Linked DNA regions of Homo sapiens: region 1 is linked to region 2. The links come from fine-mapping of genetic effects on gene expression. A gene starts in region 2. The other region holds a variant in brackets. All regions are shown on one strand. Distances are between the middles of the regions.

Region 1 (8,259 bases), 19 kb before region 2:
ACTCCGTCTCCATAAAAGAAAAAAAAAATGTGAGGAATGGCCGGGTGCGGTGGCTCATGCCTGTAATCCCAGCACGTTGGGAGGACGAGGCAGGTGGATTACTGGAAGTCAGGAGTTCAAGACCAGCCTGGTCAACATGGTGAAACCCCGCCTCTACTAAAAATACAAAATTAGCCAGGCAAAACACAGATGTAAGATTTGAATGACGCAATTAGAGGGATGTGAAAATGCCCTTAGGTGAACCATGGGTGGAAAATCATTTAAAACATGATTACAAAATATTAATAAATACTCAACTGCTTAATAGGCATAAATATTTTGAACAAAACTAAAATCCCATTTAAATTGGCTGCCAGAGGTCAGGGAGGTGGTTCAGCCGTGCACGGCTCAGCAGCAGGCATAGGTTCTGACGGCTGTGCCACTGGGCGGTTTCACTGTGGAACATCTGAGTTCACTTACGCAAGCCCGGCCTCCTGCACCCCTGGGCCGTGTGCCAGAGCCTGGGGTTTATGGCTGCAGACCTGCACAGCCTGTTACTGGGCTGGGTCTTGTGGGCGGTTCTAACCTGGTGGTGGGTATCTGTGTTAAATACATCCAAACACGGGAAAGGAATGGTAAAAATTGGGTATGATAATCTTAAGGGACCACTGTCACCTATGCGGTGCGTCGTCCACCTGCAGCCGTCCTGCAGTCTAAGACTGTGTACAGGTGGGTCCCTCTCGTCGGACCCCGTCAAGCCCTACGCGTGTGACATCTGTACTTTTCTAAATGTTTCCACTTCAGTGAAAAGCTGGCACCCTGTTTGTTACAAAGGTTGATCAGACACCGCTGTGGTGTGGCTGCAACAGATACTCTAACCATATGTCTGTGTCCACACCTCGTGACAGGAAACCAGGGTGACAGAGGAGACAAAGGCGCGGCAGGAGCAGGGCTGGACGGGCCTGAAGGAGACCAGGGGCCCCAAGGTACGAGTCCACGGCCAGCAAGGCTTCACTGGGTGACATCTCTTCCGCCATCTTGTAGCTTTATGTGGGGCGTGCTTGGGTTATGAATGGGTCTCTTTTCCTCTTCTCTTGGCAAAGCAGTCTTAGAGACAAGATTAGGAATTGTCTCAATAACCACTTTAATACATAAAAGTTTAATCGGGGCTGGGCGCGGTGGCTTACACCTGTAATCCCAGCACTTTGGGAGGCTGAGGCAGACGGATAACCTGAGGTCAGCAGTTTGAGACCAGCCTGGCCAACACAGTGAAACCCCATCTGTATTAAAAATACAAAAATGAGCCGGGCGTGGTGGCGGGCGCCTGTAATCCCAGATACTTGGGAGGCTGAGACAAGAGAATCGCTTGAACCCGGGAGGCGGAGGTTGCAGGTTGCAGTGAGCCAAGATGGCGCCACTGCCTTCCAGCCTGGCGACAGAGCGAGACTCCATCTCAAAAAAAAAAAAGTTTAATCAGTAAGCAGATCCTCCTGGATCTATTTTAGCTAAGTCAATTTGGTTAGATTCTGTTTAAGCTACTCAGTATCTATTTCAGTTAAAGTATAACAGAATTTTCTCTTAATTGACCTGTGCATACGTTGAATATTTCCATTTCTAATGTCAAAAATAAATGCTTTGTCACGGAGGGAGGCAGCGCCAGGATCCTTGGCAAAGGCCATCCCCTGCCCGCCCCTGTCTTAGCCTGGTGCCTTCTCAAAACCAGGAGGCCTTAGACTCCAAGGATGTGTGTGTCCAGATGAGAAGGATCCCGAACAGTCTTCGAGAAGGCACCCGCTCCCACCTCTGCCTGGGTGCCCTGGAGCCTTCTCCTCTCCTCTCCTCCACGCACTCACACTGCTCTCTGGATGCCCTGGAGCCCTCTCCTCTCCTCCACCCACCCCACCTCTCCCTGGGTGCCCTGGAGCCCTCTCCTCTCCTCCACCCACCCCACCTCTCCCTGGGTGCCCTGGAGCCCTCTCCTCTCCTCCACCCACCCCACCTCTCCCTGGGTGCCCTGGAGCCCTGTCCTCCCCTCCATGCACGCACGCTGCTCTCTGGGTGCCCTGGAGCCCTCTCCCCTTCTCCCCTCCACGCACACACACTGCTCTCTGGGTGCCCCATGCTCCTGGACTCTCCTTTGCTGACCTAGCTCTGCCTCTACCTGGTGTCCAAACGCACAGGGGTCCCAGGCCCCAGCCACGTCTCTCCGCCTGTGGCTCTGAACAGCATCTGTGTTGCACTTGCTGGTGGACAGCAGCCTCCCGGCCGCACCATGCCCGCACCATGCCCACACCATGCCCGCACCATTCTGGACTTTGTCACCTCATCTCAGTGAAGGGCTCTGACACCCCCCACTTAGGCGGCTGACTCCCTCTTCCCTCACACCCAGGCCTCCCATGTTTCCACTGTCATCACTCACCAAAGCCACCCCACAACCCCCCACTCCGGGCCCCCTGCTCACTCCAAATCCACTCCTTACTCACACAGCCCCCACCAAACCCGCGTAAGTCAGAGTGCGGGTGTCCTCAGGACGGCTCTGCACCCCTGCCTGGGGCTGGCCGCGCCTGGCCTTCCCCGGACACTCCCGACCGCCAGCCCCGCGGAGAGCCTTTGTGTGCCGTTCCCTCGGCCTCCCCACCCGCTGTGGCCTCTCCCCAAGTGAAGAGTGAGCAGATGGAAGAGCAGGGCTTGCCCACAGCTGGATGTCAAGTCCCCCTGCTTTCAGTCCGGGCTGCAGCTGAACTCACCTTTCTGCTCTGTCCCAAGGACCCCAAGGCGTGCCCGGCACCAGCAAGGACGGCCAGGACGGTGCTCCCGGCGAGCCTGGGCCTCCCGGAGATCCTGGGCTTCCAGGTGCCATTGGGGCCCAGGGGACACCGGGGATCTGCGACACCTCAGCCTGCCAAGGAGCCGTGTTAGGAGGGGTCGGGGAGAAATCAGGCTCTCGAAGCTCATAAAATTCAACGTGAGGAAGCAAGTGACAAGGACGCCCGAAGCACAGTGGACGGTCATGAAGGAGCGGGGGTGTGGCAGGCGGGTGACGTCCAGGAGAGGGAGCGCCCCTGGCTGCCCCTCGGCCGCCGACTGGACGCGCGGGCCTTGCCAGCGAGCACCCTCATCGGGCTGTCGCCTGACAGCATACCTCAAAAGGCCCTAGCTAATAAACCTGTAAGCCCAGCATTTGAGAGAAGGTAGGGTGTGTATATATAAAAGGTTGTGTACAACTCCACGAGGTGAAAAATATTCAGTAACTTGTTTACATAGCATTTGTGTAAAGACTATGATCTCATCCCAATAAAATGATATATTAAACCTTCAGATTAATGACTGGCTACAGAGTAACAAAAAATAAAGAATTTAATGTACAGTAAATTCTCTCCCATACAAAGGTCTAGTCTGATGTTTTGTGTACAAACTC[A/ACATCT]CATCTCCAATTAACAGTATTTATTGAGGGTGACTTTGTATTGCACTAACGTCTATTGCTATTACCTGTTGTGATTGATAAGTAAAGCCACTCATTGAAAAACCCAATTCCAAACACCACAGTTTGTGACACATGAAGTAATGAATGACTCTTGGTATGAAAACGTGGCATTTAAGCGTCTACTGTGACAGTATTTCATTTGTGGACAAAAGTAGCTTTAAAGCAAGTATCTGGAAAATTTTTAGCACACAGGTTTAAAATGGTCCTGCACGTTGCAATACAGCAGCACGTGACTCAGAGTCATGACAAGGGGGTGTGATATAACGAATGAAATAAAATTTCCAAACTGTTTTTAGTTAACAATTTAACTTGTTCCAATTGCTAAAGGGGCATATTTAAAAGGTAAATAAGTAAAAAGCCGTGTACTTTTTAAGATTAAAGAAAGTACAAAGGATGTCAATTTTTTAAGTTATCATGTTAAGAAAACATGATGGAATCAGAGCATTGAGAAAATGCTTACTAATTATTACTAATTAATTATTACTAATTATTAAGATGGCTTCATCCCCAAATGGTCTAAGAGGACATTCATGGATAAGCATTTGCGTCTAGATAAATATTTTTACAAAATGTGCTCTCAAAGTCCCTACTGGAGTCCCGTCAGCTTGAGTCACGCCCTTTTCGAGTCAGACTAGCCGAGCAGAGCTCCAGGGTTGCAGAAGGCGTGCACAGGTCACGAAGGAATGGCTGTTCACCCCCCGAGGATTCCTGTTCAGTCCGATCACTTGATCTCCATCGAGGGGCTGCTCTGTAAACTCCCCTGTGCAGGACAGGTCACCAAGGAGTCCGGTCTGGTCAGCTTTAGCCTTCGGCCAGTTTTACCGCAAAATACGCTCTCAAATTCCTGCAGTGAAGAAGTGACGGTTAACATACTGAATTAACTGACATGAAAACTGCTGTCTTCCAAAGTGCAAAAGGTTCAAATTAAGAGCTAAGTAAATGACTTTAGAATACGCTGTTTTAAGGTGTCATTCACAAACTTGTGTCTTACCTCACAAGGGGATTTATATAATAAACAGATTTTAACTTTTTTTTTTTCAAATAGCAGTTACACTGTACATGTACTTTTGTTTTTCCAATACTCAGAATGTCTGGCCACACTGTATTGATTTTATTGTGGTAAAATATACATGACATGAACGTTTCAACCGCTAATGGGCCCTAGCTAATAAACCTGTAAACCCAGCGTGTGAGAGAAGGTAGAGTGTATATATTAAAACGTTTCAGGCCGGGCGTGGCGGCTCACGCCTATAATCCCAGCACTTTGGGAGGCCGAGGTGGGTGGATCACCTGACGTCAGGAGTTCAGGACCAGCCTGATTAACATGGTGAAACCCCATCTCTACTAAAAATACAAAAATTAGCTGGGCGTGGTGGCAAGCATCTTGTGACCCCAGCTACTTGGGAGGCTGAGGCAGGACAATCTCTTGAGCCTGGGAGGTGGAGGTTGCAGTGAGCCGAGATCATGCCATTGCACTCCAGTCTGGGCAACAAGAGTGAAACTCCGTCTCAAAAAAATAAATTTTTAAAAAGTTTCAACAATTAACAAGTCAGGGGCATCTACCCCCACCCCAGGGCGACTGCCTTGCCCTCTGCACTGCCACACACTCAGGGTTCCAAGGCCAGCAAGGTGGAGGTGCTGCTCGCTGAGATGGCTCTGTCCTTGGGGAGACCCTGCCAGCAGGGTGGGGGTGGGCTGAGCTTGCTCCTGTCACACCACCTGTCTTTTACAAAAGGCCTCAATTATAATGGTGGGGTCAGTCTCAACCTCCCGAAGGAGACTGAGAGGAAGAGAGGGGCACAGGCGACGGCCCGATGACAGGCGCCAACCACCACGGGCAGAATGTGGAAACGTCTACGGGACAAATCATTCCCTTTTCAACAAATGAACGGTGAGGAAGAAAGGAAGGGGGAACTATTACGGGTTAAGATATATTTAAAAACTATCAACCAAATGTGATGTTTGGATCCTGATTCAAATGAGCTGACCGTAGAGACACCTGTGGGCTCACGGGAGATTCTGCTCAGATTCGGGAAGGAGACTCAGGTGGGTAATAAGGAGTGAAGGCTTTCAGGAAGGAGACTGATAATGCGGTTGTGTTTTTAAACAGGCCTTTTCTTTCGGAAGATATATTTATGAATGAAATGATGTCTGGAATTGTTTTAAAATAATTCAGCGGGGGTGGGAGGGCGAGGGGATAGGTGAAACAAGCTGATGCCTGAAACTGAGTTAGAGGGACCTGGGAGTTCACTTTCTATTTCTGTGCAGATTTGAAAATTTCCATAAGTTGGTTTTAAAACATAGCATTCTACACGATTAAATCCAGGTTTATACAGTTTTTATTGTGGTATTAAAATATAGCATAAAATTTGCCTTTTAAGCATGTGTAAGTGTACAGTGGAGCAGCGTGAAGTCCACTCACAGTGCTGTGCAGCCGCCACCACCTTTTCATCACCCTAAACAGAAACTCCGTACCCATTAAACACTAACTCCACACCGCTCCGGCCCCCAGCCCCTGGCACGTACCAGTCCACTTTCTGTCTCTCTGAATCTGACGGCTCTAGGTGCCTTGTTTACGGAATCCCGCAGGGTGTGCCCTGTTGTGACTGGCTTATTTCACTCAGCATAATGACCTCGGGCCATCCATGCTGTAGCCTGTGTCAGAATTTCATTCCTTTTCATGGCTGAGTAAGATTCTGTTGTGTGCTTGTAACACATTTGTTTACTCATTCCTCTGCTGGAGCACACTTGAGTCATTTCCACCTTTTGGCCACTGTGAAAGGTGCTGCCATGAATATTCATAGAAAAGCATCCATTTGGGTCCCTGTTTCACCTCTTTGGGGTTTATGCTTCTCTGGTGATTCTATGTTGAACCTTCTGAGGAGCTGTCATACTGTCTTCCACAGTGGCTGCACCATTTCACACCCCCAGCGGCAAAGCACAGGGATTCTGATGTCTCCACATCCTTGCCAACACTTGCTATTTTGCTTTTGTTTTTGTTTTTGAATAGCCATCCTAGTATGTGTAAAAGTAGTATCTCATTGGGTCTTGATTCGTATTTCCCTAATGACTAACGGCTTGGCGCATCTTTCATGGGCTTATTGGCCATCTGTGTATCTTCTCTGGAGAAATGTCTATTCAAGTTCTTTGCCCATTTTTCAGTTGTGCTGTCTTTTTTTTGGACAGGGTCTTGCTCTCTCAGGCTGGAATGCAGTGGCACATCCACGGCTCACTGCAGGCTCAGCCTCCCGAGTAGCTGGGACTACAGGTGCACACCATCACGCCTGGCTTTCAACATTTTTTTTCTGTTTTTTTTTGTTTGTTTTTTGTTTTTTTTTTTTTGAGACCGAGTCTCACTCTGTCACCCAGGCTGGAGTGCAACAGCGTGATCTCAGCTCACTGCAACCTCCACCTCCCTGCAACCTCTGCCTCCTGGGGTTCAAGCAATTTTCCTGCCTCAGCCTCCTGAATAGCTGGGATTACAGGCACCTGCCACCACACCCGGCTAATTTTTGTTTTTTTAGTAGAGACAGGGTTTCACCATGTTGGCCAGGCTGGTCTCAAACTCCTGACCTCAGGTGATCCACCCACCTCGGCCTCCCAGAGTGCTGGGATTACAGGCGGGAGCCACGGTTCCCAGTCTGTGTAGTCTTTTTGTTGCTGAGTTGTAGTAACTTTCTACTTAATTCAAGTCCAGGAGGACACAAGCGCCATGCTGCCATGGATTTAACTTCTGAACCACCTGGAGTGACTGGAACATTCCACCCATCCACTTTTAAGCAACTTTCCAACCAAGCAAGCTGCCATTTCCAACTACTGTGTGCACTCAGAATCTACACCTGCATATAAATATACTCATTTTCTTCCCAATTTTTTTTTTTTTTGGATATGGAGTTTCACTCTTGTCGCCCAGACTGGGGTGCAATGGCACGATCTCAGCTCACTGCAACCTTTGCCTCCTGGGTTCAACTGATTCTCCCACCTCAGCCTCCTGAGTAGCTGGGATTACAGGCATGTACCACCACGCCCGGCTAATTTTTGTATTTTTAGTAGAGACGGGGGTCACACCGTATTGGCCAGGCTGGTCTCGAACTCCTGACCTCAGGTAATCTGCCCACCTCAGCTTCCCAAAGTGCTGGGATTACAGGCGTGAGCTACGACGCCCAGCTTCTTCCCAAATTTTAAAAGGTTTTAGGATGCAATTTAAAATGACCCCACATTTTGATAATTTCCTATATTCTGACACCTAAAGCCTACATATAAAAAACACTTGCCTATTTGGCAAGATAGAATTCACCTTTCAGGACAATTAAATGAAAGTCAGAGCCTGGGCCGGCTCCGGAGAAGTTAGACCCTCGGAGCTGGTCTCGGACTGCTGGGGCGTCACCCCTTCAGCAACCCCCGCTGACCATGGCAGTATTTCATGACGAGGTGGAAATCGAGGACTTCCAATATGACGAGGACTCGGAGACATATTTCTGTCCCTGCCCATGCGGAGATAACTTCTCCATCACCAAGGAAGAGCTGGAGAATGGGGAAGGTGTGGCAATGTGTCCAGGCTGCTCTCTCATTATAAAAGTGATTTATGACAAAGATCAGTTTGCGTGTGGAGAAACAGTGCCAGTGCCTTCAGTCAACAAAGAATGAGTTAAATGCTAAGGAAGCCTTCAGGAATCCGAACCCTGAACAGCTGGAAATGAGCCCAGATAGAAACTTCAAATGCAAAGCTCCTGGCTTCGTGGAGACACAGCCATTTGTGATTTGCTGTTCTGTAGGCGTGTTGTGGATTCTTTCCATCAACT
Region 2 (8,398 bases):
CTCAGAAAGGCCTGCAGTCAGGGCTGGCCCTTAGTGGAGTCTGCAAACCTAGATTCAGGGAGTTAAGAGTGCCCCCAGAACCTACACTGTGCAAACGATATGGCTGACACTGAACAACTGCTTTCCTTCTGGGAGACTGGACTGTGGTTGCATGCATGGGGGCAGTGCCTACGTGACACGCCCCTGGTCTCTAGCGAGCTTTCCTGGTTGGCAACACCTCACCCACGTTTTCAGACCACATGGCTGGGGGCATGAGGGGCAACCTGCCTGACTCCACAGGGCGCGCTCTTAGAAGCTTGCACCTCAGCTCCTGCCTTCTCCCCACGCGCCTTTGCTGATCGCACCTGGCATCCTTTCTCCATAGTAAGTCACAGCCTGAGAGTGACTGCATGCGGAGTCCCGGGAGTCCTCCTAGTGAGCCAGCGAGCCTGGGCATAGTCTGGGGGATCCTTGATCCATCTGGGAAAGCTAACGATGCTCCTACCTGCTTTATTCCCTCTGAACGCAGAAACGGCTAAGGATCACTCATCTGTGATAACCATGTATGACTAAGGTAATCATATATGAGTCAGCCTGACAAGCAGTCACACGTATTACCTTCTATCTCTTTCCATTCGGTTATGCCTCTCCCTACGTTGAGACCTTCCTCCCTGGGGCCCACTCTGGGCCTGCTCCCCCAGGTTTGCCTGTGAGGACTCCGAGGACTGCCAAGCGCCTTGTGTGGCGGTGGCACCTTCGCCCACATTCTGAATCTCTCCAAGGGCTCTTCGCTCTACATTTGTGTCCAACTGACGCATTCTACTCCGATTCCTCTTCAGTGCTTGTTTGCATAGCGCTGCTTCTTTGCGAAAGAAGAAAAAAGTGGTTTTTAATTTTGTATTCTTATCTCAATTAATGCTGAATACAGTTTTGGCCTTTTCAATCCAAGATATAAACATTATTGGGTAAGCAGCACAGAGAACCGAAACACAAAGAGATGTACTAATGCAGTTTTTCAGCATCAGCAGGGACCATGAAGCCCAAGCCTATTTTATACAACGAAACTGAACAAGAATCAATCATCACACTAAATACGTTTTCCAAGTGCTATGCAACCAATATGACCTCATCCAAAGCCCCTCTTTTTAATTAACAGGTGTTATCTATGAATACAGAAAACAAGAAGTTGTTTACTTTTTCTAAAGGTCAGAATGGAAAAAAAAAAACAACAACAACAAACCACCTGGACATATTTCCTCCCAAAAATATTTTCTTTATATACAATTATTCTAAGAACAAGAAAAAAAAACAATTATTCTAATATGACAGTATTTTTACTGCAATGCTCAGAACAAAACTGCAGCAGCGTGTGTGTGTGCCCTCGCCGCAGAAGTGGCTCTCCTCCCCAAAGCAGGAAGAAGTAGCGTCCGAGCTTTTCTGCTGCGTGACAGGCTATGCCACGTGTGCGTCAGTGGAACTGTATCCATCAAAGGACCACAGGCACGTGACTGGCAGGCGTGCTCATGTGCACGCGTATGCCACACAAAGCACCCATTTCAGAAGGATGATGAAGCTTTCAGCAGGAGAGAGAGGAATTCGGTCGTTTTGGTGATATTTTATTCCTTAACCTGAGTAGTCGGCACAGAGGCTGCTTTAATACTCATCTTTGTATCTTACAAATGTGAACATATACTTTGGCATAAAATTTTATAGGGAGGAAAAGGAAGGACTGACATGGGAGAAGGCGGTAGCTCTTCCTCCCCATCTTGTCTTCACCAACTCTTGGAAAGCTAAGTGTAAGGAGTGTTCTTTTTTCGGGTCACTTCACAAATCAGTTTCCCAGGGAGGAAGGGGCTACGCAGGTGTTTCCCAGGGAGGAAGGGGCTATGCAGGTGTTTCCCAGGGAGGAAGGGGCTACGCAGGTGTTTCCCAGGGAGGAAGGGGCTACGCAGGTGTTTCCCAGGGAGGAAGGGGCTACGCAGGTGTTTCCCAGGGAGGAAGGGGCTACGCAGGTGTTTCCCAGGGAGGAAGGGGCTACGCAGGTGTTTCCCAGGGAGGAAGGGGCTACGCAGGTGTTTCCCAGGGAGGAAGGGACTATGCAGGTTAGCGCAGCAGTGCCTTCAGCAGTGACTTTATTTCCAAACTTTCCGAATCACCTTACAGCCTCTCCCTGGCAGCCCTAATAGGGTCCTCCTATTAGCAGCCACCTATCCAAAGGCTTTCGGCAGATGTTAGATGACTGCCTCACTCATCGAGTATAACATAAGGAAAATAAAAAACTATAAAGTACTTTCAGTAACTTGAAAATAACTGAAAATTTATGTAAGTCTATCACTTTACTGTTAAGAAAAAGCCCTCAAACGCAACGTTCTCACACCAAGATTAATTATGTTTGAGAATCAGAATAATGTTTAAAGCGAAAAGACAGGGAAGCGGGTGGACAGACCCCTGAGATACACAGACACCTCCAAGACTGTTTCACATGTGTACAAACCATCTGTCTCCCCTGCCCCCCAAGGCCAAAATGCCATCAGCCACAGGGCTCAGTCAGAAGAAAGCTCCCACTACCTGCTGCTTCATCGCTTACCTCCCACTTTAATCCAAACTTGCTCAGGCAAAACTTTGTTTCTACTACCTAACGTCTGTTTAGTGGATTCAATTTCTTGCTGATAACAGAAAGAAAATGCTCTAGGCAATCCAATATCCTGGTGCTTGGCAGCTTCAAGTACAGAACATGAGTTACTAGAACTCTGGAAAAAAATGAAGCAACAGGAATTTTATCAATATGTGGCTTACTCTCCTCTTTACTGCACAAATGAAATGCACTTAACAAACATCAAAACTACTAACACGTAATTTGAAGAACTTTAGTTGCACTGAAGATTTAAAAATATTCGCATACCACATAAACACTCAACTTTCACAGGTATTTTTTTGTTTTTGTTTTTTTGTTTTTTTTTTTGAGACAGGCTCTCACTCTGTCGCCCAGACTGGAGTGCAGGGTCGCGATGTCAGCCCACCACAACCTCCACCTCCCAGGCTCAAGCGATTCTCCCGCCTCAGCCTCCTGAGCAGCTGGGATTACAGGTGTCCGCCACTACCACCTGGTTAATTTTCGTACGGGGTTTCACCATGTTGGCCAGGCTAGTCTTGAACTCCTGAACTCAAATGACCCACCCACCTCGGCCTCCCAAAGTGCTGGGATTACAGGTGTCGGCCTTGGCGCCCGGCTTAAAAGGTTATTAAGCTCACTGAAGGGAAAAAAAAGTACTTGGGACCTAACCAAAATAAGTTAAAATTTACCCATTTAATACAAAAGAGCAAAGCTTCACAAATCATGTTCCCTACCTGTGTCTGTGAAAGATTAGAATTTCCACTAGTAGAGCAAGCATTTGTAGTAAACAGTGGGTATGTAAATTGCAAAGCAGTAGTTGTAGCCGCAGTTTTATTTTTCACTAATGCTGTACATTTGTTTTGTTGCTGAAGAGGAACATTCATTAGTTCAGATGGATGTCGAATGAGAGTTACCAAACTGCCAAGACAAAAGAAAGCCCAGAAGTGTCAGCAATACGTGGCAGACAAGCATCCACCATCCCACTCCCATGGCTCTGGCTAGTTTTTCCAGACAGCAACCCAACTCTCATCCTGGAAATCTCTACACAACAATTAGCAACTATCGCTGCTGTGGAAGTCCTCCTCTTCCTATGGAGGAAAAGCAAAACTGCGCCACCTCCCTGCTCTCATCACATCCTGACACCAATCTCACTTTTGCCATCCTCCAGTGTGACCACGATGGGCAACTACAGGCTGGGATGAGCAGAAAACTGCGGACGCAGCCCCTTCCACAGCCATCCCTGAGGGTCGCCAAGGGGGCGGCTGCAGGCTGGAGCCTCATTTTAGAGCTCAAAGCCTGCAAACCCCCGTCGGGCCTTCCTAGGCTTCCCTGACATCCAAGAGTGCCACCCGGAGCACATGGTTCCCAGGAATTCTGCGCGCTCGGCCCCACTCCAGGCGGGGCCACTGAGGGAGGGGGTGTTTAGTTTCTGGAAGTACCTGCTCCCCGGGGCCCGCACAGCGCACACAGCCTTTCGGGGCGGCCCCAGACCCGGTGAGGTCCGCGCCCTGTGCCGCCGGGAGGGCAGGCTGGGGGCGTGCACAGCGAGGGCCCCCTTTGCCTCCGCCCCGGCCCCGGCCCCGGCCTCGGCCTCCACCCGGGCCCCGCCAGCCCCCGGCCGCCGGGCACGCACTTGTTGAGCGCCCCGCCCGGCTCGGGGGGCTCGGGGCCGCGCGGCGCGGGCGGCGGCTCGGCGGGGATGCTGTTGAAGCGGTCCTCCAGGCGGACGCGCACGGCCGGCTTGGCCCGGGCCTCGGGCGCGCCGTCGGGTCCAGCCGCAGCCGCAGCCGCGCCCGCGCCCTCCTTGGCGGCGCCGTCGGCCCGGGCCCTCGCTCCGTCCCCGCCGCCCGACGTCTTCTCCGCCGCGCCCGCCTCGCTTAGCAGCATCATGCGCAGCTCCTGGAAGTCGATGTGGCCCAGGCAGGGCGCGTCGGCCGCCAGCGCGGACGGGCACAGCACGGGGTACACGGGCGCCGCGCCCCCCTGACCGCCCGCCGCGAAGCCGCCCGCGCCTGCGCCCGGGCCCGCCGCCGCCAGCAGCGCCGAGTTGAGGCGCGTCTCGAGCTCGCCGTCAGCCGCCGCCTCCATGTGCGAGCAGAGGATGTGCTGCAGCTGCGTGTACTCCACCTCCGTCATCTCCACCAGGCTCAGGTCGGTGGTCGTGAAGCTCAGCCCCGGCTCGCCCAGCGCCGCGTCCCCGCCGCCCGCGCCCTCGACGGCCGCCTCGCCGCCTGCCGCGCCTGCCTCCGGCGGCGGCTCCCGCGGTCCGGGGCCCGACATGGCGGCGCGGCGCGGCCCAACGGCGGCGAGGGCGACGCGGGCGGCGGGCGGCGGGAGGCGGGAGGCGGGAGGCGGGAGGCGACCCCCGGCCCGAGCACTACTCTGCGCCGGCCACAGCCGGCGCGCCGTTGGGGGAGGGAAAACCGCTGAGTGCCGCGCACAGCGCCTGCGCCGCCCCGCCCCGCAACGGCAACCCCACCCCTGCGCCAGCCCCGCCCCCTCCGTTACCCGCCGCCGCCGGCCCCGCCCCCGCCCAACCGCCCGCACGCCCGGCCCCGCCCCACGTCGGCGGATGCTTGCGCGGAGGGCCCGCCCCCACGGCCCAGCCACGCCCCCACAGCTAGGCCACGCCCCCAGCTCAGGCCACGCCCGGTTCCCAGCCACGCCCCTGCTGCCCGGCCACTCCCCGCTGAGGCCCGGCGAGGGCGGCTGCGCTGGAATCAGCGTGATACCTACGCGGTGACACCCTGGGGAGAAGCCACGTCCGTGCGTGCACGTGCGCCCCATTACAGCGGCAGGAATGAAGACGTTGTCAAAACAGCTCCCTGGACCCACAGTCCACAGTGCCCAGGCCATCCGCTTCATCCGCGTAAAATGCGCAGCGCATGGCCGGGTTCTGTGGCTCATGCCTGTAATCCCAGTACTTTGGGAGGCCGAGGCAGGTGGATCAGGAGGTCAGGAGATCGAGACCAGCCTGGCCAACATGGTGAAACCCCGTCTCTACTAAAAATACAAAAATTAGCTGGACGTGGTAGTGCGTGCCTGTAATCCCAGCTACTCGGGAGGCTGAGGCAGGAGAATCGCTTGAACCCGGGAGGCGGAGGTTGCAGTGAGTCGAGATCTTGCCACTGCACTCCAGCCTGGGCAACAGAGCCAGACTTCATCTCAAAAAAAAAAAAAAAATGCACAGCGCGACGGTGGTGGTACATTCCCAGCGCTGGGCCCGCCTCCACCGCTGCATTCACCACCGGTCTCCTGTAGCAGTCAGCACACTGCCCCTCCCCCGCCTGCAGCCACTAATCTTCTGTGTCCAGGAGTTTGCCTAGGCTGGGCCTTCCCTGTTAAGGGAACTATGCAATATGTGGTCTTTAAGAGACTTATTTTTGCAATCTTGAAATAATTCCTGTACTTAACCTCTCACCCACATTCCCATCTCACTCAGTGGTTGTCTGTTCTCTGTCTAGGCATTAGGACACTTAAAGGCCTGTGACTTGCACATCGTCTTCTAAGCCGGGTCTGAATCTTTCGCTCATTTCATCACAGTTTAGACACAGACCAATATATTACAATGATTCAACGATGGGCTATGAAAGCTCAGCCATGCAAATCTAAACTCACACATGTATACATGAAAATAATATATCAGTTTTGGGCAAAACATCAGGTTTCAGAAAACACTACCAAGGAGGAAAGCAAGGACTTAAAACTCTCAAGGACATGGCAACAGAAGTCGTCTAACGTAAAACAGAGAGGGAAGGCTAAGAGAGTGAGCAGAGCATCAGTGAGCTGTGGGGCCGCTTCAAGCAGTGTGATTTGAAGTCCCCTGGGGGTGGAAGGATGGGGAGAAAGACATTTTAAGAAGTAATGATTGCCAGGTGAGGTGGCTCACGCCTGTAATCCCAGCACTTTGGGAGGCCGAGGCGGGCAGATCCCTTGAGGTCAGGAGTTCGAGATCAGCTTGGCCAACATGATGAAATCTCGTGTCTACTAAAAATATAAAAAATTAGCCAGGTGTGGTGGCATGTGCCTGTAATCCCAGCTACTCAGGAAGCTGAGGCAGAAGAATCGCTGGAACCCGGGAGGTGGAGGTTTCAGTGAGTAGAGATTGCACCACTGCACTCCAGCCTGGGAGACAGAGCAAGACGCTGTCTCAAAAAACAAAAACAAAACAACAAAAAAAAATAATGATTGAAAAGTTTTTTTAAAACTACAAACCTACAGACCCAAGAAGTTTAACATACCTCAAACTCAAGAAACATGAAGGAAACTACACCAAGATGGAAAGCAAATTGCTTTATTTATTTATTTTTTTATTTTTTGAGATGGAGTCTTGCTCTGTCTCCCAGGCTGGAGTGCAATGGCACGATCTTGACTCAGCACAACCTCTGCCTCCTGGATTCAAGTGATTCTCCTGCCTCAGCCTCCTGAATAGCTGGGATTATAGGCATGTGCCACCATGCCTGGCCAATTTTTTGTATTTTTAGTAGAGACGGGATTTTGCCATGTTGGTCAGGCTGGTCTTGAACTCCTGACTTCAGGTGATCTGCCCACCTTGGTCTCCCGAATGCTGGGATTACAGGCATAAGCCACCGTGCCTGGCCTCAAATTGCTTTAAATCAGTGAAAAATCTTAAAAGCAGCTGTACACACACACACACACACACACAAGACATTGTGTACAGAGGAACAAAGATAAGAATGATTACAGGCCAGGCGCGGTGGCTCACGCCTGTAATCCCAGCACTTTGGGAGGCTGAGGCGGGCGGATCACAAGGTCAGGAGATCGAGTCCATCCTGGTAAACATGGTGAAATCCCATCTCTACTAAAAATAAAAAAAAATAGCTGGGTGTGGTGGCACAGGCCTGTAATCCCAGGTAACTCAGGAGGCTGAGGCACGAGAACCGCTTGAACCTGGGAGGTGGAGGTTGCAGTGAGCCAAGATCACGCCACTGCCCTCCAGCCTAGTGACAGAGCGAGAGACTCCTTCTAAAAAAATAAATGAAAAGATTGCAGTGATTGCAGACATTTCTTCAGGAATAATGCAAGTCAGAACAGAGTGGAATCACACCTTTGAAGTGCTGAGGGCAAGGGAGAAGCTGACTGATAGTGTCAGGCGTCTGTATTCACAGGCTCTGCGTCTGTGGATTCAACCAAGGATCAAAAATACTCAGAAAAAAATTACTTGCACCGAAATGCACAGACTGCTCTTCCTTGTCATTATTCCTTAAACAATATGGTATAACAAGTATTCATTTAGCATGTACATCGCATGAGGTATTATAAGTAATCTCGATATGTATATATTTTAGAAACAGGGTCTCGCTCTGTCTCCCAGGCTGGAGTAGGATAATACGGTTATAGCTCACTGCAGCCTCGACCTCCTGAGCTCAACCAATCCTCCTGCATGACTCTGCCGAGTAGCTGGGACCACAGGCACACACCACCATGCCCTGCTAATTTTTATTTTATTTTATTTTTTGTAGAGATGGTATCTTACTATGTTGCCCAGGCTGGTCTTGAACTCCTGGCCTCAAGTGATCCTCCCACCTCAGCCTACCAAATTACAGAGATTACAGGTGTGAGTCATCACGCTCGCCGCTACAGATGATTTAAAGTGTATGGAAGAATGTGCATAGGTTATATGGAAACACTATGACATTTTGCATAAGGGACTTGAACATTCGTGGATTTTGGTACCCATGGCAGGTACTGGAACCAATCCCCCAGGGATACTGAGGAATAACTGTAGTTCTATGCCCAGCAAAGATATTTTTCAAAAACAAAGGCAAAATAAAGACTTTTTTG

What was found. PIP is the estimated chance that this variant, and not a neighbour inherited with it, causes the effect. A credible set is the group of variants that fine-mapping cannot tell apart.
Region 1: its variant is the best candidate, but not a certain one, in a credible set for the expression of TCFL5 in hippocampus (GTEx, PIP 0.78).

Annotation. Positions count from the first base shown.
Region 1 is chr20:62,837,797-62,846,055 of GRCh38, forward strand. COL9A3 (collagen type IX alpha 3 chain) reads left to right here. Exons shown (of 32, transcript NM_001853.4): 31 at 888-965; 32 at 2,746-3,363. The coding sequence ends at 2,936. It overlaps TCFL5 (transcription factor like 5), which reads right to left. Exons shown (of 6, transcript NM_006602.4): 6 at 3,209-4,301. The coding sequence ends at 4,179. It also overlaps the pseudogene DPH3P1. Among named protein-coding and RNA genes, the nearest start is that of TCFL5, 20 kb to the right of the region's middle. The variant A/ACATCT (reference allele first, on the strand shown) is at 3,398.
Region 2 is chr20:62,856,798-62,865,195 of GRCh38, forward strand. It overlaps TCFL5 (transcription factor like 5), which reads right to left and starts at 5,025. Exons shown (of 6, transcript NM_006602.4): 1 at 4,227-5,025; 2 at 3,328-3,511; 3 at 2,567-2,729; 4 at 598-841. The coding sequence starts at 4,873. It overlaps LOC105372717 (a long non-coding RNA gene), which reads left to right and starts at 4,638. Exons shown (of 4, transcript XR_936989.4): 1 at 4,638-4,744. RefSeq lists silencers at 4,444-4,593, 5,094-5,283, 5,334-5,433 and an enhancer at 4,818-5,472.